4 linked regions of the Homo sapiens genome follow. The protein of the gene in region 4 interacts with the protein of the main gene of each other region in a biochemical or structural test. Each region holds a gene or a part of one and is shown on either strand. Other genes may lie near its edges.

Region 1 (7,103 bases), on a different chromosome or scaffold from region 4:
TTTTGTCCTCCATATAAATTTGCTCCCAAGTGTCACCCAGGTCCCTTTGAATCTCTATGGCTCGTAAGCCCCCCCCTCCTCCTCAAAGAGATTGTCAGCTCTGAATATTTCTCCTTTGTCTATCCTCAAGGAACCTCTGGTTCCAGAATCAGAGATTCTGCAGGTGTAATTGGGGAGGGTAGAGCAAGACTTAGCAAAGCTCTTCCATTTAAATTCCCAGCCTGTGGGAGCCACCAGCCTTTGATTTATTTATTAAGTTCATCTCTCAAAGGCAAATATTATTTTCTTTAGCATTCACAGAACTAAGATCTACTTGTAACAATTATTTCTCCTTATTAATAAGGTTTGGAAATACCCCAAAACATAATGGGTCCCTGTTATTGTACATAGGGTTGTTTTATTTTTCCATGACTTTGCCAACCTGTGATGTTTGGTGGCATTACTGAAGATCAATATGAGTGTTTAAAGATGCTCTCTTTGACTCTATTTCAGTTCAGATTCTCTCTATGCCTGGAGGATAGCAGGAGAGTTGGGGGCAGGTATGGTCTTCTAATTTCTTCTGTTGCAGAATGAATCAACAGAAGCAGCAGGGAAGAAGGAGATGTAAAAATACAGCATAATTCTTATTGGACAGTGCTGGAAGTTCCTGTGGGAGTTTGAGATAGAAAAATCGAGAGGTACTAGTCTGAAATGGAGAGGCTCATCAGTTCAGGGTAGGATCTCAGAGAGATACTGGATGTCAAACGTGGACTTTGCACTTTCCCCTGCAACCTCTCTCCCTCTCTCCACTTTGTTTGTCCTTAATGGAAGAAGGTCGATTATATTAAGTCTACAGATGAATTATTTGGGGAAAGATTCACTAAATTTACAACATCTTTTGAGTGCCTACCTTGGTGCTAGGGACTATTCTAAGTGTATCAAATGCTTTGACTCATTTAATCCTCCCAACCCCCGTAAAGCAAGTACTATTATGATCATGCTTATTTTTATAAATGAGAAAACTGTGGCACCGAGGAGGGAAGGTGACCTGTCCAGTTCACACAGTTAATGAGCAGAAGAGCTGGGATTGGAAGTCACATAGTTTAACTCCAGAACCACCCACTCCCAACCATCATGCAACACCACCTCCCCATCCAGGATATGGTGTATTTTTCCCACTTATTTGAATCTTTGACATTTTCAGTAGAATTTTTATAATTTAAAAGATATGGGCCATGCACGGTGGCTCACGCCTGTAATCCCAGCACTTTGGGAGGCTGAGGCGGGCAGATCACGAGGTCAAGAGATCGAGACCATCCTGGCCAACATGGTGAAACCCCATCTCTACTAAAAATACAAAAATTAGCTGTGTGTGGTGGCATGTGCCTGTAGTCCCAGCTACTCGGGAGGCTAAGGCAGGAGAATCACTTGAACCCAGGAGGCAGATGTTGCAGTGAGCTGAGATCACGCCATTGCGTGCCAGCCTGGCGACAGAGTAAGACTCAATCTCAAAAAAATAAAAAATACATATATATGGTTCTGGACAATTTTTCTTACAGTTATTTTGGGATTTTCAAATAGTTTTTTTGTTGTCTATATGGTAGAATTCTTAAAATTACAATTTCTGATTATGAAATTTAAAGTTAGTTGAATTCATAACGATGAATAAAGTCACATGTGAGTTCAAAAGCTCGTTAACTCGTGCACTGTCTTGCTAGTCTCATCCCTTGCACTGTTTAAGAGTGGAGAGTGGGATGTGAGCAGGAGTGCCTGGTAAGGAGGCAGTAGGAGCTGACGCTAAAGAGCCTTGGGTAACGGTAAGAAGCTTGCCTTGCTCCTGAATCAAACCTTCCAACAGAAGGCAGGGAAGTGAGATCATTAGGTTTGTTTTTTAAAAAGCATTTTTCTTATAGCATTTTACTGGGTGATTTGGGCTTGGGAAAGGTCGGTGGCAGGGCACCTGTTAGGGCATTATTGCAGTATTTCAAGTGAGAGATAAAGTCTGACCCCAGGCAACAGCAGTAAGAAAAATGGGAGTAGCGAGGATGGGGCAGGGGGGCAGTACACTGAGGGGAGGGTAAGGAACAGGTCTCAGGTAAAAGCGACAGTCCTGGGTGACCAGTTAAACGTTGGGGGAGAGGAAAAGAAAGGAGATGAAGTTGCCACCAGAAAGAGTGGCCTCAGGAGAAAGGGGTTGTACAGGGTTGGGGATGGGGTGGGATGGGCAGAATGTATCAGAGAAATAGTACCCTTGGGGTTGGTGTGGTACAGGTGAGTGGGCCTGAATGATAGTAATGGAAATCCCAAAGCATGATATAAAAACTAACGAAATTTGAAAAGTAATAAACATGAAAAAAATGAAAAATTTTGATTTATGGGGGATTTATTTGGCTTCTATTGGAGAATGATTAGGACTGAAGCTAACTACTTGGAAGTTATTGGCATATAAATGGTATGTGAGGCCAGAGGAAATGGTGAGATGAGCCCAAGTAGAGAGGCCAGCTTTAAACAACAACAACAACTACCAAAAAAAAAAAAAAAAAAAAAAAAGCAAAACAAAGAAATAGGACACAGAGTTAGATTTGAATGTCAGATATATGATGAATAATTGTTTAGTATATTCCATGTTTGGACATGTTTAAGACCTACTTGTCCTAAAAATAATGTATTATTTATCTGAAATTCAAATTTAACTGGGCACCATGTATTTCATCTGGCAACCATAACAGGGGCAGCACACAGAAATGTTGGCAGGGACCAGGCAGGCCTTTCAGATAGTGAGGTGGTGTGTGAGACACAGGCCAGTGGTGGAGGCTGGGTGACCCAGAACTCCTGTCTCTCATTCTCAGGGGCAGCTGCTACATACTTCCCACTGATTGGGTTTGCAGAGATGGCCTCGAGGGTGTCTGATATTCTGATATTTCAAAACAGAATAGAAATATGTATTTTAATGTGTATTTAATATATATATTTTAAAATATTTTTAATGTTGATATTAAAAGTGGTCAGTTGGGCTCAGTGCAGTGGCTCATGCCTGTAATTCCAGCACTTTGGGAAACTGAGGCAGGAGGATGTCTTGAAGCTAGGAGTTTGAGACAAGCCTGGGCAACATAGCAAGTCCCCATCTGTACAAAAAAAAAAAAGAATAAATTAGTCAGGTGTAGTGACTTATGCCTATAATCCCAGCTACTCAGGAGGCCAAGGCAAGAGGATTGCTTGAGCCCAGGAGTTTGAGGCTGCAGTTAACTACGATAGCACCACTGCACTCCAGCCTGGGTGACAGAGTGAGACTCTGTCTCTATTTAAATAAATAAGTAAATAAATAAACTGGGCAAACAATGAAAATGAAAACATTGCGAAATACAAAGCAGCTCTGTGGGTTCCACTGGTTTGCAGCCTCTGATCTAATTTCTAAAGTGGGTGTAGCAGGTTTTTAACCTGTAAATTATGGTGATCGGCAGGTCAGGGTAAATGGTAGTTGTGTGTGGGGAAGAGATGATGGCAACAGATGTTTTCCTCCTGCAAAAACTAAAATGTGGGAGTGACTTCTCTGGCCATGACTCCATGGTCTCTCCCCTCAGAGCCATTTTCAGTAAAATTTTTATAGTTTAAAAAATACGGTTCTGAACAATTTTTGTTAGAGTTATTTTGGGATTTTTAAATAGTTTTTTGGTTGTGTATATGGTAGAATTCTTAAAATTATACAATTATAATGTATAAAAAAGCATGCAATTATAATTCATAAAATTATAGCCCCACTGACCATTCTCCTGTAGCTGGGAGCAGTTCACACTAACAGGGCTATACCCCCATGCTGACCTGCTCTGCAGGATCCCAGGAAGGTGAGCATAGCCTACTAACCTGTTTGGGTAGCACAGCGACAGCAACTGAGGCCTTGAAGGCTGTTATCAGAAAATTGTGGGCGGAAACTTCCAGGGGTTTGCTCTGAGCTTCTTGAGGCTTCTCAGCTTCAGCTGCAAAGTGAGTGGGTGTTTCTTTGAGAAGCAGAATCAGAGAGAGAGAGATAGAGAAAGAGAAAGACAGAGGTGTTTCCCTTAGCTATGGAAACTCTATAAGAGAGATCCAGCTTGCCTCCTCTTGAGCAGTCAGCAACAGGGTCCCGTCCTTGACACCTCAGCCTCTACAGGACTGAGAAGAAGTAAAACCGTTTGCTGGGGCTGGCCTGACTCACCAGCTGCCATGCAGCAGCCCTTCAATTACCCATATCCCCAGATCTACTGGGTGGACAGCAGTGCCAGCTCTCCCTGGGCCCCTCCAGGCACAGTTCTTCCCTGTCCAACCTCTGTGCCCAGAAGGCCTGGTCAAAGGAGGCCACCACCACCACCGCCACCGCCACCACTACCACCTCCGCCGCCGCCGCCACCACTGCCTCCACTACCGCTGCCACCCCTGAAGAAGAGAGGGAACCACAGCACAGGCCTGTGTCTCCTTGTGATGTTTTTCATGGTTCTGGTTGCCTTGGTAGGATTGGGCCTGGGGATGTTTCAGCTCTTCCACCTACAGAAGGAGCTGGCAGAACTCCGAGAGGTAAGCCTGCCGGCAGACTGCTGTGCCCTGGAGGCACCAGGCATAAGGGGATGGAGGGCCCACTGCCTGGCTTGCAAAGTGCTTTTCAATCCTTTTTTTTTTTTTCTTAGAAATGGGTTGTTCTAGTTATTCTATTCTATAGACAGAGAAATGGAGGCTCATAGGGGTGAAGGGAATATTTTTTACTTTGTAAAGAATCAGAGCCCAACAGTTTGTCTTTCCTCAGTTGTCAACTCAGTCTGTTGAACCACTTACTGCCTCATACCTATTGATTTAAGGAGTAAAAAACAAACAAACAAAACTTTTAAGTTTTGCTTGGAAGTAAATTTGTTCAGATGACCAAACTAAATCTTGAAAATTGGTACGATTCCAAATCACAAAACTGAGGGACAGTGAGGCAAAATTGCTTGGCCAAAGCCCAAGTTAGCAGAACTTCTGAGGTATTTGGATTCTCTTTCCAGGGCTTGGTTTATTTGACGATTCTGCCTCTTTTGCTTAAAGAATTTTATTTTTATTATACATCTTTTCTCTTTCTGTTTTACTAGTCTACCAGCCAGATGCACACAGCATCATCTTTGGAGAAGCAAATAGGTGAGTCTTTTTTCGCATGTACATTGAGTTCCCAAAGATGATCCTCAGCACAGAACTATGTTAATGGAATGCCTTAAATTCTGTCCCACACTTTGGTTTCTGTACACTATAAGAGGAATTCTGGCTAATTCAGAATCTCTGGTCTATGATTCCTTGAGCTGCTTTAAAAATGTGAAGTGAATTGAATTGCTCACAATCAATATAGCTGAGCACTGCACACAATTCAAAATCACTTCCACTTGACTTTGGAAAGAGACACACATATACAACCCTGGACCTTTGCCCCCTGAGAAGTGGCTCCAGGCCTGTCCCCTTCCACAGACATCCTGGTCCTGGCACACACGCCAGTGGCTGTAACTCCTGGGAAGAGAAGGCGAAATGAAGGCAGAGACAGATGTTTCTGAGAAACGTCCTTTCCTCTTTTAAATGCCCTAAAGAGATTACATTGAAGCTTTATTTACAATATGTTTTATAGGATGTAAGCTTTTAAAACATGGATAATCAATTCCCCACATTAGAATGGTTTTTCTTGAAGTCACTGAGAAGCTTAAGGGAAGACTTCAGCCATCATTCAAAGGATGTTCAGCTTCACCCACAGAGGCAGTCATGAGGTACCCTTGATCACAAAGGAAAATCCTTTGTATGGGAGCTAGGGCAAGAAGATGATAGGTTGAACACTGATCTCATGAAATTTCAGGGCATAGTTGTGCAAGCTCTGTACAGATAGATTTTACAGTGTGCTTCACTAGTCTAAGATTCATTGAAATTTTAGATTTAGATTTACAATGAGATTCATTGAATTTTTAGAGGTGGAAGGAAGCTTAGAATATATCTAGTCCAGCCATTTCATTTTTTGGAAGAGAAACAAAATACCAGATGGATTAGGTGAATATGCCCAAGACCACTGGTATGCCATTGGGGCTAGAAGGAACACAGGCTCTTGATGCCTTGTCACCTACAGGGCTTTCCAGTACTGGACTGGTGCCTCATGAAGGAGGGAAACTCCTGTCTCTCTGTAGTGAGCATGGAATAAGAAATAGATGAAAAGCAGGATACCTCTGCAAAGACTATAGGTAGATCTCATCCTTAGAAACTCAGAATAAAGAAGAAGGCAGCACTGGCCATCTATTAAGTGAAGCAAGTTCCAGTTTCTCCGGATGTGGCTACTGCACATGACCCAGTCGCCTGTCTACTATCCTAGACTGTTAAGTTCTTATATGAGCCACTGTTGGGATGCTCTGGCCCCTGCTTCTGTGTCCTAATCCTTAAATGTTAGAAAGTCCATATGTACACAAGCAGAGTGGAAATATTTGATAGAAAAGTAAAGCCTCTGGAGGACGTCTGAAATAAGATCATTTTGAAAATCTGTGGAATGTGCCTGGTCTGATAGGTATCTAATTATTCATCTTTCACCCACTCTCTGGAGTCAATTTAGTGATTAAAAGTCAAATGATCAGGTGAGTCAGATCCATCTACCCCAGTAAGCAATTATGTTCTCTAGATCAACCCAAATAAACCAGAAATTGGTAAATCATCACATGGAAATCAAATCAGTAACTTTACTAATAAGAAAAGAGATGCAAATTAAAAATAGGGAATACCAATTTTCATCAAATTAATAAAGATTAAAAAAAAACCCAGACTGACAAAGATTTGAGAGAAAAGTGCCTGTGCAAACATTAGTTTCAGCCAGTATACATGTAAATTGCTATAACTTTTTTTGAAGAGCGCTTTAGAAATACATAGCAAAAGCTTGTAACTAGTAGTTTACGTTGTAATCCTATCGCTAAGAATTTATCTTAAGAAAATAATCAGAGATGTGCCCGAAGATTTATATATAAGGATGTTCATTACTTCCTTATGAGCCTATTTATAATAAATAATTCAGAAGAAACTTGAATGCCTCATACGAGATTAGTTATATACATTATGGTGTATTCAGACAAGCACATAATAAGCAGCAACTAAAAGTGATGTATCAGAAG
Region 2 (7,028 bases), on a different chromosome or scaffold from region 4:
GTACTTAAAATTTTATAAAAGTCAGCTCTTCCTTGCTTAAATAAAGTGTGCCCCCCACAAACACACACTCATCAAGAGACAATAGGAAAAGCATGAAATTAGAAGTTAGAGGCCTGGCGCGGTGGCTCACGCCTGTAATTCCAGCACTTTGGGAGGCCAAGGTGGGTGGATCACCTGAGATCAGGAGTTGAAGACCAGCCTGGCCAACATGGTGAAACCTTTTTTCTACTAAAAATACAAAATTTAGCTGGGCGTGGTGGCAGATGCTTGTAATCCCAGCTACTCAGGAGGCTGAGGTAGGGAGAATTGCTTGAACCTGGGAGGCAGAGGTTGCAGTGAGCTGAGATTGTGCCACTGCACTCCAGCCTGGGCGACAGAGTGAGACTTCGTTTCAAAAAAAAAAAGTCAGAAAAGGCCTAAAGGCCTGAGTTTGGGGGTTTTCTAAAATTTTTTATTAATTTTTTTTTAGAGACAGGGTCTTGTTCTGTCACCCAAGCTGGAATGCAGTGGCGCCCATTATGGCTCACCACAGCCTCCAACTCCTGGGCTCAAGTGATCGTCCTGCCTCAGCCTCTCTAGTAACTGGGACAACAGTTGTACGCCACCACACTGAGCTAATTTAATTTATTTTTTTTTTTTTTAATTTTAGTAAAGATGGGATCTCACTCTGTTGCCCAGGCAGGTCTCAAGTTCCTGGGCTCAAGCAATCCTCCCACCTCGGCCTCCCAAAGTTCTGGGATTATAGATGTGAGCCCCTGTGCCCAGCCAGGCGTGGGTTTTTAATTCTTGTTCTGTTACTTTAACAATTTTATGACCTAGAGATAGTTATTTAACCTCTTTGAGTTTTTGTTGCCTCAGATGTAAGTAACTCAGTTCACTGAGTTATTTTTGAGGATTAATGAGGTAATAGTTCTATGGTATTTGATATATAGTAGGCATCAAATAAATATTCAGCCCTACCTGGGTAAGGTGGCACGCACCTTTAGTCCTAGCTACTGGGGAGGCTGAGGTGGGAGGATCACTTGAGCTCAGGAGTTCGAGGCTGCAGTGAACTATGATGGTGTCACTATGCTTCAGCCTAGGCAGTAGAGAACCCATCTCTTTAAAACAAACAAAAAAAAAGGCGGGGGGAGCATAGTAGGTCACGCCTATAATCCCAGCACTTTGGGAGGCCGAAGTGGAAGGATCATTTGAGCCCAGGAGTTCAAGACCAACCTGGGCAAAATAGGGAGACCCCATCTCTACAAATAAAAAAAATTAGCCAGGCATGGTGGCACGCGCCTATGGTTGCACCTACTGGGGGTGCTGAGGTGGGAGGATCGCCTGAACCCAGGAGGTTGAGGCTACAGTGAGCCATTATTGTGCCACTCATTCCAGCCTGGGTGACAGAGTGAGACCCTATCTCAAAAAAAAAAAAAAAATTCGGCTCCTCCTTTTTTTTTTTTTTTTTTTTTTTTTTGAGACAGAGTCTCGCTCTGTCACCCAGGCTAGAGTGCAGTGGCACGATCTCAGCTCACTGTGACCTCCGCCTCCCGGGTTCAAGCAATTCTTCTGTCTCAGCCTCCCAAACAGTTGGGACTACAGGCACACGCCACCATGCCCAGCTCATTTTTGTACTTTTAATAGAGATGGGGTTTCACTGTATTGGTCAGGCTGGTCTCGAACTCCTGACCTCAGGTGATCCACCCGCCTCAGCCTCCCAAAGTGCTGGAATTACAGGCATGAGCCACAGCGCCTGGCCCCCTCCACCCTTCTTGAAAGCTCGAGTAGCTTCTTAGTCTTCTGCTTGCTTCCTTTTCTTCCCTCTCCCTCTCCCTTCATCCCCTCCCTGCCTCCCTTCCTGCCCCCTCCCTTCTTCCCTCCCTCCCTTCCCTCCTTCCTTCCTCCCTTTCTCCCCTCTCCCCTCCTCTCTCCCTTCGATACCCAAGCTGGAGTGCAGTTGCACAGTCATCATAGTTCACTGCAGCCTTGAACTCTTGGGCTCAAGCGATCTTCCCACCACAGCCTCCTGAGTAGGTAGGATAATAGGCAGGTACCACTACACCCAGCTAATTTAAATATATATATATATTTATTTATTTATTTATTTATTTATTTTTGGTAGAGACAGGGTCTCGCTGTGTTGCCCAAGCTGGTCTCAAGCTCCTGGGCTCAAAGCAGTCATCCTGCTTCAGCCTCCCAAAGCACTGGGATTACAAGCGCATGTGCCACTGTGCCCAACCAGTCCTTTGCTTTGTAGGTTAAAATTCTGATTCTCTTTTCAACCCTCTGTTTTATTTAAATGATCCTTCTCTGAATTCTCTAAAAATGCTTTCCTTTGCTTTTTTGAGACAGGGCCTTACTCTGTCACCCAGGCTGGAATGCAGTGGCATGATCTTGGCTCACTACAGCCTCCAACTGCTTATCCTCCTGCCTCAGCCTCCCAAATAGCTGGGACCACAGGCGCATACCACCATGCCTGACTAATTTGTTATTTTTTATAGAGAAGGGGTCTCACTATGTTGCCCGCTCTGGTCCCAAACTCCTGGGCTCCAGTGATCCTTCTGCCTCAGCTTCCCCAAATGCTGAGATTACAAGTGTGAGCCACCATGCCTGGCCACTGCTATTCTTTAAAAAGTTGTGAAATAATTGGACAGAAGGATTCTAAGATCTGAGTAGTTCAAAAATAGAAGAATCCATGTTATAGAAAGGTCTTATACTATCACACTGGTCTTTAAGAAATGAAAAAATGAAAGGCCTTAAATTCACAGAGTGCATTACATTGCATATAAACACACCTTCTTGTAGGAGTATAGCAGATGAACAGACTTTGAATCGTCTTGCACTGACCAAGGTTTCTGGAAAGTGGTATAAAATACAGCTGAAAGGTCTAACTCAATGGTAGCCCTCGGAAGCACAAAGCGACATAGATAAAATGAAGTATCTAATTTGTTCCACATTCTTTTTTGTTGTTGTGATGGAGTCTTGCCCTATCGCCCAAGCTGGAGTGCAGTGGCGCAATCTGAGCTCACTGCAGCCTCTGCCTCCCGGGTTCCAGCGATTCTCCTCCCTCAGCCTCCTCGGTAGCTGGGATTACAGGTGCACACCACCACGCCTGGCTAATTTTTATATTTTTAGTAGAGACGGGGTTTCCCCATGTTGACCAAGCTGGTCTCGAATTTTTGACCTCAGGTGATCCGCCCACCTCAGCCTCCCAAACTGCTGGGATTACAGGCGTGAGCCAACGCGCCCGGTCTATGTATATATTTTTTTAGTAGAGATGGAGTTTCACCACGTTGGCCAGGCTGGTCTCGAACTCCTGACCTCAGGTGATTTGCCCACCTTGGCCTCCCAACGTGCTGGGATTACAGGCATGAGCCACCTCTCCTGGCCTGTTCCACATTATTAAAAGCTCCTTGGTGATGTTCTCAGATCAGAATTATGGCATCTTTGTTCTTCTAGGACTTTGAGGATTGAATAACTAAGTTTTCCAGTCTGAGAACTTAGAAAGTGGTGTAGTCAGGTACAGTAGGCTCAAAAAGATTGATCAGAAAAAGTATATTAGCAGTAGGGGAAAAGAAGTAGAGGTCAGGATCTGCCACCAAACAGTAAGGGTTAGGGTTAGGATTACCCTCACAAGTAGACTGTTGAATGAAGCATTACTCTGTTAACTGTAAGGTCAAATTTGTTTTCTATTCCAAGCACTGAAACAGGATTGTGAAGAGCACTGTCATTTACAGTTCTTCTCATAGGAGTAAAGGTTTTTAATTAAGGATATTTACAATTCATCAGCAATTTTAATTGTCAGAAAACCAGGAAGTATGTGTCTATTAGTTCATGGTATAGTATAGCATCTGAAATTAGGCTTTTTAACAAACAAGCATTCAGTCTGAAATTCTAAATTCTCTAAGGCATGTCAGAGTCAAAGTTATTTTTCTTCGTCTATATATTTCACAGCTGCACCTCTCTAAATATTTATTTTAAAAACTGTTAGGCCAGTACGGTGGCTCACATCTGTAATCCCAGCACTTTGGGAGGCCGAGGCGAGTGGATCATCTGAAGTCAGGAGTTCGAGACCAGCCCAGCCAACATGGTGAAACCCCATCTCTACTAAAAATAGGGAAAAAAATTAGCCGGGCATAGTGGCGCATGCCTGTAGTTCCAGCTACTCGGAAGGCTGAGGCAGGAGAATCGCTTGAACCCGGGAAGCAGAGGTTCCAGTGAGCAGAGATTGCACCACTGCGCTCCAACCTGGGTGACAGAGCGAGACTTTGTCTCAAAAAATAATAATTAATAAATAAAAACTGTTAAGGGTATAGATTTGTGGAACGTGTTTGAGGTAGGGTGTCTTTATACTTCAAGCCAATGGTTTTCAAAGTATGGTCCCTGGACCAGCAATATCAGAATTACCTGGGAACTTGTTGGAAATGCAAATTCCTAACACAAATCCCAGACTGGCTTTGAAGCCCAGCAATCTAGTTTAATAAGCCCTCTTCTAGGTGATTGTGATGCATGAAGAAGTTTGAGAACCCCCGCCTTAAAATTATAGAAGATGGGAATGTTATGTAATATTCTATTACAGACTATTCTCTGATATTTAGAATGTTCCACTGATTTTAGGGAGTATATATATATACACGTATATATATATACTATATATACTTTTTTTTTTTTTTTTTTTTGAGACAGAGTCTCGCTCTGTCGCCCAGGCTGGAGTGCAGTGGCGCGATCTCGGCTCACTGCAAGCTCTGCCTCCTGGGTTCATGCCATTCTCCTGCCCCAGCCTCCCTAGTAGCTGGGACTACAGGTGCCCACCGCCACGCCCGGCTAAATTTTTTTTGTATTTTTAGTAGAGATGGGGTTTCACCGTGTTAGCCAGGATGGTCTCGATTTCCAGACCTTGTGATCCTCCTGCCTCAGCCTCCCAAAGTGCTGGGATTACAAGCGTGAGCCACCGCACCTGGCCTATTTTTTTTTTTTTTAACTACTCTCAGTGGATCATATAAGCTTTCAGTTGCTACTCATCCTTGGGCACTCTGCCCTCATCTCTATTAGAACTCCTGTTATAGTACTTTACTTCATTGCCACCTCTATAGTCTGGGAACTCCAGTATATAAACAGTGAAGACAAGAGACCAGTCTGACTCGCTCTATTGTATCTCCTGTGCTTTGCAAGACAGATGTCTGGCTCTTATTAAGTCCTCCATAGTGGTTAATGATTGTACCTATTATAGCCCTCCCTTCATCTGCCTCTCCATACTATAGGAAGCACTCAAACACTTGCAGTCACTCAATGAATGAAGTTCCTTAATGGTAGGAAATCTTTTTGTATGCCAAGTTTCTATCTAATGAAACTGTCTTAACCCGCGAATTGAAAGTACTTTTAGGTGATGATGGATATGTCTGTGCCCATGATGGTGGTGATGGTTTCATGGGTGTATACTTATCTCCACACTCATCATTGTATACATTAATTATGTATAACTTTTTACATATCAGTTATACTTCAATAAAATGTTTTTTTAAAAAGTACCTGGTGGCTGGGCGCGGTGGCTCACGCCTGTAATCCCAGCACTTTGGGAGGCTGAGGCAGGCGGATCACCTGAGGTCGGGAGTTCGAGACCAGCCTGACCAACATGGAGAAAACCCTTCTCTACTAAAGATACAAAATTAGCCGGGCATGGTGGCACACACCTGTAATCCCAGCTACTTGGGAGGCTGAGGCAGAAGAATTGCTTGAACCCAGGAGGCAGAGGTTGCAGTGAGCCGAGATCATGCCATTGCACTCCAACCTGGACAAAAAGAGCGAAACTCCATTTCAAAAAAGAAAAAAAAGTACCTTGTGCATTTTGTATCATTTAGGCATTGGCTGAATTTGGGCTAGATAACGGTAACGATATATTAAGTACTTTATGAAAAATTGGCCTTAATTAGGCATATCTACGTATTTTATTAACTTAGGTCACACGACTAGTGAGTAGCAGAGTAAGAATAAGGTCTTTCAGACTCTTAAGGACTAGTATCTAGAGTACTAATGTCACCGTGGAACTTTAATGGAACTATCCATTGTATATTTAGATTATTTACTTTTGTTTTTTTCAAGGTAAGATTATACTTTGTCTTGATGCAGATTTTGATTTTTTTGTTTGTTTCTTTATTCTCCTTTCCCCCATCTCACCCAATTAATTTTGTTAAATTGATTTAAGAAACATTTAAATGTCTCTGTTGTCATGGCTTCAGGTGAGGGTGGAAGAGTACACTTCTTTTATTAGAAGCAGGCTTTGGGCTTTCTAGTCAACTTCATATAGCTTTAGTGCTTTCAGCTAGTTTCTTTCTGAAATTGGCACATTTGTGTGAACTATTTGGTTTCACTATATGGTATTCCATGTTATTGCTTTAAGCAGACTTCAAAATTTGCATTTATTTACCAGGGCAAAAATAAATTGTTTTTCCTATTCAGAAATTGAGAAGATTCAGAAAGGAGACTCAAAAAAGGATGATGAGGAGAATTACTTGGATTTATTTTCTCATAAGAACATGAAACTGAAAGAGCGAGTGCTGATACCTGTCAAGCAGTATCCCAAGGTAAGGCAAAAAGTGCTTTGGATCTTTGAGTTATCTTTATAGTTATGAGAGAGTCATGGGCTATAATAAAGACTCCTGGGGATTGTGATGCTTTAGAAACTTAAGCCTGTGAAGCTTCTCTTTCATGCTTGTAGTACCTGTTACTGAGAGTTGAAATATCTAAGTTCTTAACTAATAACATAGCTATAGCCAGGAAGGAAATATAATCATCTTTTTATTATCAAAAAGTTTCTTTCTCAAATGATTGCTCAGGCTACAAGTTCAAAGAAAAAAAAATTAAAACCTGAAGAGTTGCTCTTTGTCAAAAGACTAACCTGAAATCTAAATAAAAGGAAATATAATATGAATCCTCAATTGGTTGAAGTTAATTTTATTTTCTTACTAAAAGTTTACTTTTAAGTAAATGCTTTTTTTCTTCCTTTTTTTTTTTTTAGGAAAGCATTTAGTTACATTTAGTTTATCCAG
Region 3 (7,028 bases), on a different chromosome or scaffold from region 4:
TTGGGCATTGGATACAGCAGAACATGCCAATTTCTATGGCTTCTCATGTGACAGAATATACTTACTAGGATGCAATTAAATACTCCTCAGAGTATGTAAACAATAAATGTAATCATTACATTATTTTTATATTGTTCTTTCTTATGCATAATAGTAAGACTGAAAATATAGTGTTATTTCTGAAATATGCATATTGTTTTGCTTTTGATGATTAAATAACATTGTCCAAAGTTTTAGGTTTTTTGAAATCTTATATTTTTTAACAAAATATCTAGCCTTTCCAAAACAAGACCTCAATAATTCGTTTAAGACCCAGAGTTGTTCCTCTCCACATAGATCTCTTAAAAAGGCAGAGGATTTATGACCTCAAGAGAAATCAGAGTATCCAAAGTTTGCTTTAATTCAATGTTTTAAAAATAAAATTCCTTAGATTTTATCAAAAATTGAGATTAGTTTGATTTTGAATCAGATGCCCTTTGCTCCCCACCCCAAAATGGCATTATGAGCAGACTAGGAATTGATAATAGAAAATTGAACATATGAAATATATCTTTACCTTGCTTTTTAACAAGGTATTCATGTCTATCGCCTTCATTTTTAAGTGCATCAATAAAATACATGGTAATTCTCTTAGTGAAATATACTATCTACACTATGTACACACTCCCCTGTCTGAGGTAGAGAAGTAGAGAATATTCACATTTTTGAAACGTCTATGCTATTTTTATTTAAATACGAGTTCTGGGCTTGATTTCATTTTGGAACACGGGTGTGTGCTTAAGTTGAACCTTTTTTTCCTCTTAAGTCAAAGTTCTTTTTTAGTTTCTTCTTTTATCTTTTTGGCTACTATCTCTCTCCTTCATCCTCCTGGTGTGAGTTGTTGAGTGAAGGTATTAATTCCATTATTTGAGGCTAAGTGACATTGTTCAATAATGCAGCAAAACAATGGTTCTACCCAAAATATCTTCAAGTGTAAAAGCAGTGGGCAAAAGAGAAAGTGCGCTTCTGCTGCTTTGAATGTTTAAGGCTGTGAAAGTTGATCACACAAATTGGGTCATTCTTGTTATACCCAACTAAAACAATCAAGAAGCCTGGGAGGAAAAGCATTCAAGAAACATCACATTGCTCCAAAAGTGTAATTTTCTACAAGTCCGCATGCTGAGGCTGCCTGTTGTAACCTGGGACCAATTTTTTCTGTAACTGCTGAAAAAACTTGCTGCAGCTCTAGGACTAATTTTGCCCACCACTGTCACTCACCAATTGAAGCTTACTAGCTCCCCAGAACCTTTCTAGTGCCAATGAACTTTCTCAAAGAGCAGCGTGTATCATTTCTCTTTTTCAGAACACCTCCAACCTCCTCTTTGTTCTTTGGGTATACCAAAGACCAACCAGCCTTGAATTTCAATTTTTCTTCCCACATAAAAGTTTTAATTTAGAAATGTATCTCTACATTTCTAACTTTGACAAAGCATAGATACCAGATAATTGATGAAACCTTGCTATTTTAACGATCACCATGGATTACTTCCCAGTGTCTTCAGATAACCCTCAACATTTGCCAACATTTGATGGACTTCAAAATGAGCATATCTTTTTTAAAAAAAATTATTCACACTGACAGCAAGTACATTGGTATACTCTATATTAAATTATACCACAGGGTTTACAAACAATTGGTGATGTCGGGCAGTGGTTTCCAAGGAACATACTTAACAAGACACTCACAAGGCCCTACAAACCTGCATTTTTAACAAGGGCCCTAGATGATTCTAGAAGAGTGTGGTTTGGAAAGCAATTTTTGCCTTTATTATGTGTCATTTTAAATATATTTAAAATTAAAGTTATAAGTCATAGAATTGAATAAAGATAATTTCCTTACAGAAAGTATTACTAGGTATCTAAATACAATATGGTTCAAAACAGGAAATTTAAAAAGATTATGTAAATTCTGTAGTTGTATTCCTAAAGACAGTAGCTGAAATTTTTTCCTACTTCTCCTTGTATCACTTCCCTTTTCCTTCACTTTCACTTCCCTGGAATTGTACTTCCCAATAAGCTATTAGCAGTGAAGGAAGCTTCGTCTCATGATCTGTTTTATAGAGCACTTCAGCTGGGACGAGTACGAAATGATAATCAGTTATATCAGCTATTCAACCCTACAGGTTTATTTAAAAAGAACTTGAATAAGCTTTTTAGGGAGAAAGAGGTCAGTCTCAGCCATTTCTGTTTCCTAATATAGCTTTTAAGTCTTTCCTTATTAGCAATGAGGGTCATTCCATTGTAATTTTTTGATAACCATTTTTCTTTCTGTGTGTCAAATGCAGATATAAGATACTGAACTGAGTCTATTTCACTGTTCGTAAAACAATCCCATTTGAAAAAAAAAAGTCTACAGCTATTCCAGGGATAGGGCCTAGTAGAGAGAGAATAAAAGGTATTTTCTTACTATGTCTCTATATCCTACCCTGTAGGTTCTCTTATTAAGCATACAGGCATATACCAAAATCCAGACGTTTTTCTCATTTATTTTATTGCCCTAACATATTCTGGGTTAATATAATATCATAATGAAAATTTGAGAAAAAATTGATTTTTTCAAAAGTGTTTAACATTTGTTATATTGGTAGTTTTTTTTCTTGTTTGTGGTAAAAATAAATAGAAGGTGCACTTCACACCTTCAAGTATGATTATATTTTGAAAACAAGTCATGAATACTCATAAAATGCAAATTTTAATGTTCTTTTTTTGTTACAGCCAAACTATATTAGGCACAGTTGTAAATTGGAGTTGAAATTTAATATTTCTTTATAGATAACAATGTTTTTAGAAATAGGTTTATGAAACAGTAAATATACAGGTATAGGGATAAAATTGTGTCTGATGGTCATATGAAGTGTTTGTTGTTATATTCTCCTTGGAATAGCTGCCAAATATTTTAGTATGCTTAAAATCTACGAATGTGATAGAGTCAACAAATTTAGATCACATATTCAGAAAAACATAGTTAGAGAACTAACTATTGAAATGAGCATACAGCAGTCTTCCTTTATCTACAGGGATACATTCTGAAACCCCCACTAGGACACCTGAAATTGCGGATAGTAGCAAACCCTACATATACTGTTTTTTCCAATGCTTATGTACCTATGAAAAAGTTTAATTTATAAACTAGGCACAGTAAGAGATTAACAACAATAACTAATAACAAAAGAGAACAATTATAATAATATACTGTAATAAAAGTTATGTGGGTATGGTCTCGCTTTCTCTTTCCCTCTCTCTCTGTCTCTAAATATCTTAGTATTTTGGGGTTGCAATTGGTGGTGGGCAACTGAAACCATGGAAAACAAAACCACGGATAAAAGGAGACTACTGTATATACTTTTTAAAACTGATGAAATATTAAACTCATGTTTCTTCTATATCCCACCCATTTCCCCCACCCAAACCTAGATAGATATCTTATTTGATCTGTAAACATTTAATTAATTTGTAAAAGTTAAGAACTTTTTGAAGTAAAACTGCAATATATCATCACACCTAAAGAAATAAACAATAATTCTTAAATATCAAGTCAGTGTTCAAATTTCCCCAACTACCTCATATGTGTTTTCCATTTGCTTATGTAGGGTTCCCAATGAGAATGAAATAAAGTTCTTAGGTTGCAATTGGCTAATGCTCTCTCACTTCTACTTTAAGCGGCAGGTTCCCACTAACTTCTTTTTAGTTGCAATTTACTTATTGAAATTAGACGTATTCTTTGTCTTGTGTAGTTTCTCACAGTGCAAAATTTGCTGATTGTAGCCACTGTTGTAAGCAATGAACATGTTTTTCACCACCTTATATTTGCTGTAAGTTGTCAGTGATAGTTAAATGTTAATCAAATTCAAATTCGGATCACGTAGGGCTTTTCTTTTTTTGTTTTCTTTTTCTATTTATATATTTATTTATTTATTTTGAGACGGAGTCTCACTCCGTCACCAGGCTGGAGTGCAATGGTGTGATCTGGGCTCACTGCAATCTCCACCTCCCGGGTTCAAGTGATTCCCCTGGCTCAGTCTCCCGAGTAGCTGGGACTATAGGAGAACCACCACGCCCGGCTAACTTTTTGTATTTTAGTAGAGATGGGGTTTCACCATGTTGGCCAGGATGCTATAGATCTCCTGACCTCACCGATCATGTAGGACTTCAATTGTCGAACAAACGAACCTTTAATAGCAGTTACACCATTAGGATGACCTGATCCAACATCGAGGTCGTAAACCCTATTGTCGATTTGGACTCTAGAATAGGATTGTGCTGTCATCCCTAGTGTAGCTTGTTCCCACTTGATGAAGTTATTGGATCAGTGAACAATAGCCCACTTAAACTAGTACAGTCTTAGTTTAAGATGGTGATGTGTATGTACTTCCATCAGAGGGCACATAATACAGTAAATCCTCACTTAACTTCATCAATAGTTTCTGGAAACTGTGACTTGAAGCAAAACAACATATAACAAAACCAGTTTTACCATTGGCTAATTGATATAAGCAAGAATTAAGTCCTATGGCAAATTTCTGGACACAAAAACACCATCAAACTCCTAAATAAAGATAAATCACTTCTGACATTAAACATTGAAATTAATGTGAGCTATATATACGTTTAAGAAAGATTAATACAAACAAGTCAAATAACTTACCTAATTATTTCGGTGGAGGCCGCAGGTGGTTGGAGCCTATCCTGGCAGCTCAGGGAGCAATATGGGAACCCACCCCGGACAGGACGCTGTTCCATTACTGCAGGGTGCTCTTGTACACACCCACTCACCCAGGCTGGAACCATGCAGACACACACACTCACCTAACCTACACATCTGTGTACATCCTTCAAAGTTCAGCCAAATAACATATAAACAAATCCAGTAATATCCATCAGTCTTAGTTCCGTCATAACAACTCCTTTTTGATCATCAAACAACAAACAGGGTAGGTCTGCCATATTTACTTGTCTGGTCCATATCAAAATTTTCTAACAAATTATATTAGAAAATCAAATCTCTGTCAGTTTCAAAATCATGGAAAAAAATTTGCCTTATTTCCCTTATACTTGGATATCCTAACAGTAATCTAAATATTAATGAGAAAGTTAATGATGTCGTTTCCTTCTCCCTGTTGTAAAGAAGGTTTTGCTGTCCCGTTTGATCACTAAGACTAATTGACACTCAGAAAAAGCATAGGAAACTTCTCAGCATCACAAAAGCTCTGTCATCTAGAGAAGCTAGGACTTGAGCTCAAGTCCTGTGACATGGAAGGCCTTGTGCCTAGCCATCCTGCAGCAGAGGCGTATCTACCAAGAAGTGAAACACTACGAAAACAGTATGTTTACTCCACATTTTAAAGTGAGGTAGTTTGGGGTGGTTCATATTTTATTTAATTTATATATTATTTGGATTTTTTTTAGTTTATAAAAAGGGCATTGGCAAGGGCAGAATGATCTGTAAGCTTCTCTGCCCACCTACCATAAGCATGATCTTTAGTGTGACCTTTTCTTACTGTTAGCCATTTTCTTATACTTCTGCGTCCCTGTCAGTCACTTCCATGTGAAGACATGGGGAAGCTTTTTTACATCAGACATGTTGTTGAAAATCAGCCGCGTTGGCTGAGGGATTATTTGATCTCTTTCTCCAAGTCCCTTTAGGCTCACATTGCCTCTCTGTTCTTTGAATTTTCACTTACCTTTATCTTCTTATAATTACTTTGCTGAAATAAATGCAAAGCAACAAAAGGTATTTAGTGAAGAATACCAACAAAGCCATGACCATTTCAGGCTGAGTTTTGTAGTATTCTTTGTCTAGGAAGAGATACCTAGAAAAATTTTCTGACCATGTATTTGATTATTTTCCTTCAATATGTATAGTCTCAGTCTTCAAATTTCAGAAAAGAATTTGTTTCTTCATTGTCATTTAAAATTAATGTGTTAAATATGTATGCTTTTACATTATAAGTGGTTATAAAAGTTAAACACTTAGAAAAAAAGTCAAAATAACATACATACTATCCAACAAAATAACTTTCATATTTTATTGTGTTTTCTTCCAAACTTTTTACCTTTGCGTCTGAATTCTGTGTAGGTTGTATCTATAATATAGACAACACTTTATAGCCTGCTAAATATTATACCATAAATAGGTAGTTGTTACATAATTCTCAGGTAATAGTAATACAGGTCTTTATCATAATCTACTGAGTAGTTGAATGATAATTTTTTTTAAGACAAGGTCTCCCTCTGTCACCCAGGCTAGAATGCAGTGGCATGCACATGGCTCACTGTAGCCTCTACCTCCCAGGCTCAAGTGATCCTCCTGCCTCAGCCTCCCAAGTGGCTGGGACTGTAGGCATGTGCCACCATGCCCAGCTATTTATTTGTATTTTTAGTAGAGATGGGGTTTCATTGTAACAGCCCAGGCTGGTCTTGAACTCCTGGACTCAAATGATCCACCTGCCTCAGCCTCCCAAAGTGCTGAAATCACAGGAGTGAACCACTGCACCCAGCAATAATTTTTTAACTCTTCATTATTCATTGAACATTTAGTTAACAATTCTAAAAATTTTGTTTCCTGCTGTCATTGATCTTGTGAAAAATATCTTTGGACTATAGCTGTGGATTATTTCCTAAATAGTAAATTACTTGAGCAAAAAGTTTACATACTTTGAGGGTTGATAACCCATGTTGCCGCAATGTTTCCCCGGAGGCATTGTGGAGTTTAGAATGCCAGTAGTAATATTAAGGTGTGCCATTTTCAAGATCCGTGGCCAACATCCCTATATGTAAGATTTTTCCAAAACATGGTTCTGATTTTTAAAAGTGAAAAATGCTACTTCATCATGTTCTTTTTGTGCTTCTTACTTTAAATATTAGAATGAAGAAGGAGCCCCACAGGAAGGAATTCTGGAAGATATGCCTGTGGATCCTGACAATGAGGCTTATGAAATGCCTTCTGAGGTAGGAGTCCAAGCTGAATCTTTCTAACAAGACAGTACCAA
Region 4 (7,028 bases):
TGCAGGAATAGCTGCACGTACATTTCATTCTCATGCAAGCCATTTATCATGTTCCCCACCAATACTGCTGTTTCCTAACTAGGCTTAGACTTACACAACCCACAGCTCTTAGATCTATTATGTCTATTGTGTTAAATTAAACTTTTATAATGTACATCAGTTTCTGTCCTAACACCCAGATATCACCATTATTTTGTTCTTTCTGAAAACATATAATTATTAGATATGCAGTTTATACATTTTATCAAAGACTGGTTTTATGTGCAATTGTTAAAATGATTGCTTTCTTTCCTAGATTAGCAAGTATTATATGCCACTATATAATACATGTTCACATGTGCCTATAGATATAGGTGCACATGTATAGACACATGTCTATATCCTATTAAGCCTAGAGATATTTTTTTGTGTGACCCATTTCTCCATTTTCTATTGTTCTCCAGGACAAAGGCAAGACTCAAAAATAGTATATGATTTACCTCTACTATTGCTCTGTGCACAATCATTGAAATATGTATGTATAATTTTTGGCATGAAAAAGCAATCTTTCGAAAATGACAATAAGAAATGTCTGTTGATCCCTTGCACTAATGAACAATAGAAAATATTAACAGCACTTGCAGTACTAGTTGATTATGGCATTGGCTAACTCGGTTTATGTGGATTCTAATGAAACATTTGGGAGAAATGGAACAAAATATCTCCCTGAGCTTAAGTGATATACTCAAAATGCCTGCATGTTGTAAGGATTTTTCAAATGCTGAAATATATTTCATTACAGCCAAACATCAGCAGGATCCCCAGGGTTTGGATCATTTGAAAATACTGTGTTCGAAAGGGCACCTTAATAACATTGTAAAGCTGGAAGGAAAGAGGGGATATGAACAATAGACACTTTTTTTAATCTCGGGGAAAAAAAATCCATCTCACGTTAGACTTGTTTTTATATTGGCTTTCCCTCTTCCCTCTTTCTCTCTCACACAATAAAATGCCTTTGAAATGCTGACACATAAATAATTTCCTACCTAAACATCTCAGAGCCTGATTCCATCAAAAAGAAAGGAGTAAAAAGCAAGTTACAGCCCAGCAGCACATCTGCTTTCCCTGGGTCCGGGGGCTGCCAGGAGGGAGCGGGAGGTCTGTCCACCTCACAAGGCAGGCTCTGTCAGCTTTTGTCACTCCCTGATTTCTTATTCTTTGTTACCTTTTTTCGCCTGACTGATTTTTACTTGGCATTTAAGTTCCCCTTAGCACTGCCAGATTCTAAAAGGTTATATTCTTTTTAAAAAAGAAGAGAAAGAAAGAAGGAAAGAAGACAAAGAAAGAATAAAAACCTCCGAGTGTTAACTACTTTTTCCTTTCTTCTTTTTTTTATAAAGAATACATTCTTTCACATCTTGAATTTCTGTGAATTTTAGTTTCCATTCTTTCTCCTTTCAAACCAGACACCTAAATTATACGTCGAAGACTGTTAAAAAGTTGTTTTTTTTTTTTTAATGGAAAATATCCAAGAAGCAGCCCAGGAGTATCTGACATGGTGGAATGGAATCAGTTAGAAAGCGAAGAAATCACTAAAAAAAGTTACTTCTTTTTTTCCCCACCAGTTATAATCTTCAACCTTACTAGTTTATAACAGTTTAATGTCCTATAGAAGGATCCTCCACTAAAGTTATAATTTTAAGTATAGTCATATAGAGAGATCCCTAATCCCCTGGGTAATCTAGATACTAAAGGTGGGGAAGAACAGTCATATTGACATTCTTTAATCCAAAACCACTGTTTGAAATTAGTAAGGATATTTTCAGCATTCCCAAAAACATGTTATTAGCACGTTGAGCTGAAAACGTTTTTCTTCCTCAGTGAGTACAGAAACCAAAGCAGTCTGCGTGTATGTCTATGTATAGACTGTATCGTACCTGGGCTCATGGAGTAGTCTAAATTTAAAACGTCCTCTCTTCTACCTCCAATGAAAATGTTTCCGTGTGTGGCGTCTGATCTTCCACCGTGTGTGTGGTCGTCTGCTGGTGTAGCGCTGTTTAAGGAGCGCTGTGTGCTGCTAGTGTTCCACGATGTGTGTGGTCGTCTGCTGGTGTAGTAGCACTGTTTGAGGAGCACTGTGCGCCGCTAGTGTGGGTTTACACTTATGAGTGTTGTCATTACATGTGTTCTGCTCTTCTCTCCCTCTCCTGCCCCTGCCCTGCTCCATCAGAGAGAGCTGCAGGTCTCTGCTGCCGCCTAGTAGTTCCCTGTCACAAAGGGATGCCAAGGCTTACCGATCTGTCTGTCAAAACCAAAGATGTCTGGGAAATCCCTCGAGAATCCCTGCAGTTGATCAAGAGACTGGGAAATGGGCAGTTTGGGGAAGTATGGATGGGTATGCTGAGACTCAATTACTCTCTTATTAGCTTCCCCGTTTGGAAGATCCCAAACACCAAAGATGGAAGGTGAAAATAAAGACTGCGTGACCGGGAAGAAAGTTTGAATTACTAATAGTGGGGAATAATAATTTCAGTTTTGGTTTTAACATTCTGGAATTCCTAAAAAAAAAAAAAAAAAAAAAAAAAGATAGTAAGTGGGCAAAATTGGCAAATGGCTCAAGTTGTACTATTACATGACTCTCAATTCATAAACCAGCAAATGGTCCAAGGAATGTTCCAGCTGCCATAAAATATCTTGCTCTTCATTTCCAAAAGCAAATATTTGTTGAGTGTCATCCTAACGGGCAAGTCACCTTCCATCTTTCCTAGTGCATGCATAATTATGGATTATAAGGACTGTGTTTTCTTTATTAATTCCCTTTCCTGTAGAGAAAGCTGATGGTTTGTGTTTTAACTTAACTGTGATTGCATCGAGTTGTACCCCACAAACTTCTGGATTGGCTAAAGATGCTTGGGAAGTTGCACGTCGTTCGTTGTGTCTGGAGAAGAAGCTGGGTCAGGGGTGTTTCGCTGAAGTGTGGCTTGGTAAGGCAGAGGGCACATTTTGTTTTGGCTGCATCTCAAAGCCGATTAAAAGGATGGTTTTGAACAAAAATGCACACACAGCCGTTGGGACAAAGACACTTAACCTGGATAACTAGACGGGCACAGGCCATCCAGATTTTCAGAATATGCTGATACCTTGCTGTGCTCATCTGTCCTACTTCATGTGGTTAATTAAGGCACCCGCAGAACAGGAAACCAGTACACTATGAATCTGGTGTTTCCTCTTCCTAAGAAATGGGAAGGTAAGATACTGTATATGGGCAGCCATAAGAAAGACCATGGACGTTTTGCTCAATGGGCCTGGGTTTGAATCCTTACTAGCTAATTAACCACGAACAAGGGGCATATTTAACTCCTTTAAGCCTCAGTTTTTTCATCTGTAAAATTGGAATGATACCTTTTTGTTGTTGTTGAGACGGAGTCTTGCTCTATCACTAGGCTGGAGTGCAATGGCGCGATATTGGCTCACTGCAACCTCCACCTCCCAGGTTCGAGTGATTCTCCTGCCTCAGCCTCCCGAGTAGCTGGGATTACAGGTGCCTGCCACCACGCCCAGCTAATTTTTGTATTTTTAGTAGAGACGGAGTTTCACCATGTTGGCCAGAATGGTCTCGATCTCCTGACCTGGTGGTCTGCCAGCTTCATCCTCCCAAAGTGCTGGGATTACAGGCGTGAGCCACCACGCCCGGCTGGAATGATACTTATTTAAAGGATTATTTTTAGGATTACATGGGTTAATATGTTTAAAGTCCCTTGCAGATAGTAGATATTCAGTAGAGATACATACTTCTCTTTATTTGATTGTCATTGATAAGGCTGGCTGCACTGGGCCTTTGTAATTTCTTTTATAGCCCTTTTGGGTCAGTTACAGCTTTGCTTAGAAACAATTCATGGGTTTAGGCCCCACTCAAAAACATGTTTCAGTAAAACAATATTAATACTTATGGAATCCTCTATCTTCCTTCCTCAGAACTCATTAAAAACAATATCGATCAGTACCCTTTGCTACGTGTGGGTATAGATCTTTAGGTGTGGTCTGCATTAAAAGAGTTAATACAGGTGGCCGGGCACAGTGGCTCACACCTGTAATCCCAGCACTTTGGGAGGCCAAGGCAGGCAGATCACCTGAGGTCAGGAGTTTGAGACCAGCCTGACCAGCATGGAGAAACCCTGCCTCTACTAAAAATACAAAATTAGCCGGGCATGGTGGTGCATGCCTGTAATCCCAGCTACTCAGGAGGCTGAGGCAGGAGAATCACTTGAACCTGGGAGGTGGAGGTTGCGGTGAGCGGAGATCGCACCATTGCACCATTGCACTCCAGCCTGGGCAACAAAAGCGAAACTCCGTCTCAAGAAAAGAAAAAAAAAGAGTTAATACAGTTAAAGCACTTAAAACATAGCCCAGCAAATGATAAGTACTACAAAGATGTATGTAGGTATGTTAGGTGGATAAATAGGTAGTAGACAGACATACACATATATATGTATGAGTTAGCTAGTTTAATAAATCCACATTATTGTGTCCATCTCTCTCTGGACTTAATCTCAAGTATCGTAAAATATATGACCTCCTTCTTCCTCATTCACCCTCTAATAATAGAGGATTTTAGTCAAATTACTCACACAATCACAGAGAATTGGACCCTATTAGAAAATTTATTTTCAAATTTTACAAATATCAACTTTAAATCATTACATATACTGTTCACATTTTGTTTTCCAATAAACACAAGACAACATGCCCATCAGAATTGGGATGGATGTCTGTGTAATTGACGAAGTTTGTATTACAGAGGAAGATCTTAATGTATTTAGAATTTTGGGTGCTGACTCTTAAATAGCAAAGATCACTTATAAATTGTCAAATTTCCCATGAATGCTTAGTGGGCAGATATTTTATGAAGTTTAAATGAACTTTTCTTTAAGCCACTTGTTTTTTCATAATTTATATTTTGTAGGTTGCATGTTGTAATTGTATGAACCATGTCTTTAACAGGATAATAAGAACTCCAATTTACAGAATCCTTAAATTCCAAAGTCAGTTATATTAAATATAAAAATCTTAATTTAAACCAGTCTTCTTTTTCAAATAGAAAATAATCTAAATTAGCAGATTTCTTCCCCTTTATAAAGTTATTCTTAAGCATCATAGGTCTAATAATGGAATACACAAAGAACCTAGGTATGGTTTTGTTTTTTGAATGCTGGGGCTGAAAGAGACCCAAAAGATAATCCAGTTCCATTCCTATATTTTACAGATGAGGTAACTGAGGACAATCATAATCCAGGCCTTGCCTTCAGATTTGCTAGATTTTTTTTTAACATGCTAAATTTAAATATTTCTGTTCCCTCTCAGCTGCTGTTTAATTTCCCCTGTCTACCTACCTGACAGAAGCCATTGTTCTTGTGGCTAGCCATCAGTAAAGCTGAGGAAATTTGCCTTACCTTGTTGAAGTATTGGCAAGCAGACTGTGAGCTCCTTGCCAGTGCTTATCAGCATGCTTGGCACACCTGTGCAAGGACTCAGTCAAGTAACTTGTCCATTGCAGACATTGAAAGTCTAGAGGTAATTTCCAGACATCCTCATGTGGTGCCATATTTTTAAATGGCACACCCCATAAACTTAAATAATCTAATTTCTTCCATGCACACTGTACTCCCTAAGGGACAGCTATTAGATGGCCAGGCCTGTTCCAACCCCTGGACTTTCATCACTGTATGGTGCAGAGCTTTTGGTATAAATGTGTAATCATATGACTGAGCCAAAAAAAGAGAGAGTGGTAATATATCAAAATTTAAAAAAATTTTAATGAGTTATAAATCTTAATATAGCCATCTTAGCCATAACCACAAATAAACTCATTTTTTCTGTTAAAATACTTGACAGAGTCCTTGCAATTGAATGTCTTTGTTCAACAAAAACTGTATTAAGTGTTTTAAATTTAAAATCTAATCTTATGCAAATAGCTGGTGGTCAAAACCTTTTTCCATCAAAAGAAGATCTTTGGTTTGACTTCATATTCTGGGATGTTTGTAGGTACCTGGAATGGAAACACAAAAGTAGCCATAAAGACTCTTAAACCAGGCACAATGTCCCCCGAATCATTCCTTGAGGAAGCGCAGATCATGAAGAAGCTGAAGCACGACAAGCTGGTCCAGCTCTATGCAGTGGTGTCTGAGGAGCCCATCTACATCGTCACCGAGTATATGAACAAAGGTTGGGCAACACCTCTCCTGTCTCCAGCTCACAGTGCCTTAAGGGGTTGTTTAGGGGAGAGAAATGGAAGTTTCCTACTTGCTACTTTTCTAGTTTCTGCCTGGGTCAAGTATTCCCATTAGGAACCACCAGTTATGTGCTCGTTAATGAAAACATTTTTTAAAACAGACTAACCTTGCGTTTACCCCACCCCAAATCCTTATGAAATGCCAAATACTTTTTACATGTTATGTGTGTCAGAAATTCAAGCTCCTCTCCATAATTAAAACATTCATTTTTAATATCAGGGTGGTACGGAGGGTTATGATAGTTTGCTGTTATTTTGAATGTAGTAGCTTTTGTTACATTTCCTTTTTGCAGGGCTAAACAATTAATATCAGACACTGGTCTCTAAGCTAAGTTTAGTCTCCATCATTTCAACATCTTTTTTATTTCCAGCTCTCTTCTTAAACGTCAGGCGATGAAATTACATGCTTTCAGAGACCACATTTATTCTCACATTCTCTCCCCTACAACCCCTCTGTCTTCCTAATCAAACCAGCATTGTTAGGGATAAGGCCAGAGATCATTTTGTTTTGGAAAAATAGATGAACCAAACAAGAAACAGCCTTAAAAGGCAATACATTGTTTATCAGAGGATACCAGTGTAATTTTTCTTTTCCATGTACTTTCTTTTAAAATTTAATGGGAATTTTTTTTTCTGGCAAACGGTTTGTCCTTTGTATCCAGGGTTATTTTGTAAATAACTTTGTGATTAAAGCATAAAATATCACTGATGACCATCATAAGCCTCCAGCTTCTGCAAATGATTATCCCTGCTTTGGTGT

The links.
Region 1: the proteins of FYN (region 4) and FASLG form a complex in vitro, tested with the Homo sapiens proteins (4 studies listed by BioGRID and IntAct, with this or other methods).
Region 2: the proteins of FYN (region 4) and KHDRBS1 form a complex in vitro, tested with the Homo sapiens proteins (4 studies listed by BioGRID and IntAct, with this or other methods).
Region 3: of the proteins of FYN (region 4) and SNCA, one has a biochemical effect on the other in vitro, tested with the Homo sapiens proteins (3 studies listed by BioGRID).

What each region holds. Positions count from the first base shown.
Region 1 is NC_000001.11:172,655,023-172,662,125, forward strand, and holds the start of FASLG (tumor necrosis factor ligand superfamily member 6), read left to right. Parts: upstream 1-4,080; 5' UTR 4,081-4,179; coding exon 4,180-4,527; intron 4,528-5,072; coding exon 5,073-5,118; intron 5,119-7,103. UniProt on the Homo sapiens protein: Cytokine that binds to TNFRSF6/FAS, a receptor that transduces the apoptotic signal into cells. Involved in cytotoxic T-cell-mediated apoptosis, natural killer cell-mediated apoptosis and in T-cell development.
Region 2 is NC_000001.11:32,023,860-32,030,887, forward strand, and holds part of KHDRBS1 (KH domain-containing, RNA-binding, signal transduction-associated protein 1), read left to right. Parts: intron 1-6,438; coding exon 6,439-6,563; intron 6,564-7,028. UniProt on the Homo sapiens protein: Recruited and tyrosine phosphorylated by several receptor systems, for example the T-cell, leptin and insulin receptors. Once phosphorylated, functions as an adapter protein in signal transduction cascades by binding to SH2 and SH3 domain-containing proteins.
Region 3 is NC_000004.12:89,729,153-89,736,180, reverse strand, and holds part of SNCA (alpha-synuclein), read left to right. Parts: intron 1-6,903; coding exon 6,904-6,987; intron 6,988-7,028. UniProt on the Homo sapiens protein: Neuronal protein that plays several roles in synaptic activity such as regulation of synaptic vesicle trafficking and subsequent neurotransmitter release.
Region 4 is NC_000006.12:111,695,450-111,702,477, reverse strand, and holds part of FYN (tyrosine-protein kinase Fyn), read left to right. Parts: intron 1-2,209; coding exon 2,210-2,374; intron 2,375-2,807; coding exon of another isoform or gene 2,808-2,963; intron 2,964-6,021; coding exon 6,022-6,201; intron 6,202-7,028. UniProt on the Homo sapiens protein: Non-receptor tyrosine-protein kinase that plays a role in many biological processes including regulation of cell growth and survival, cell adhesion, integrin-mediated signaling, cytoskeletal remodeling, cell motility, immune response and axon guidance.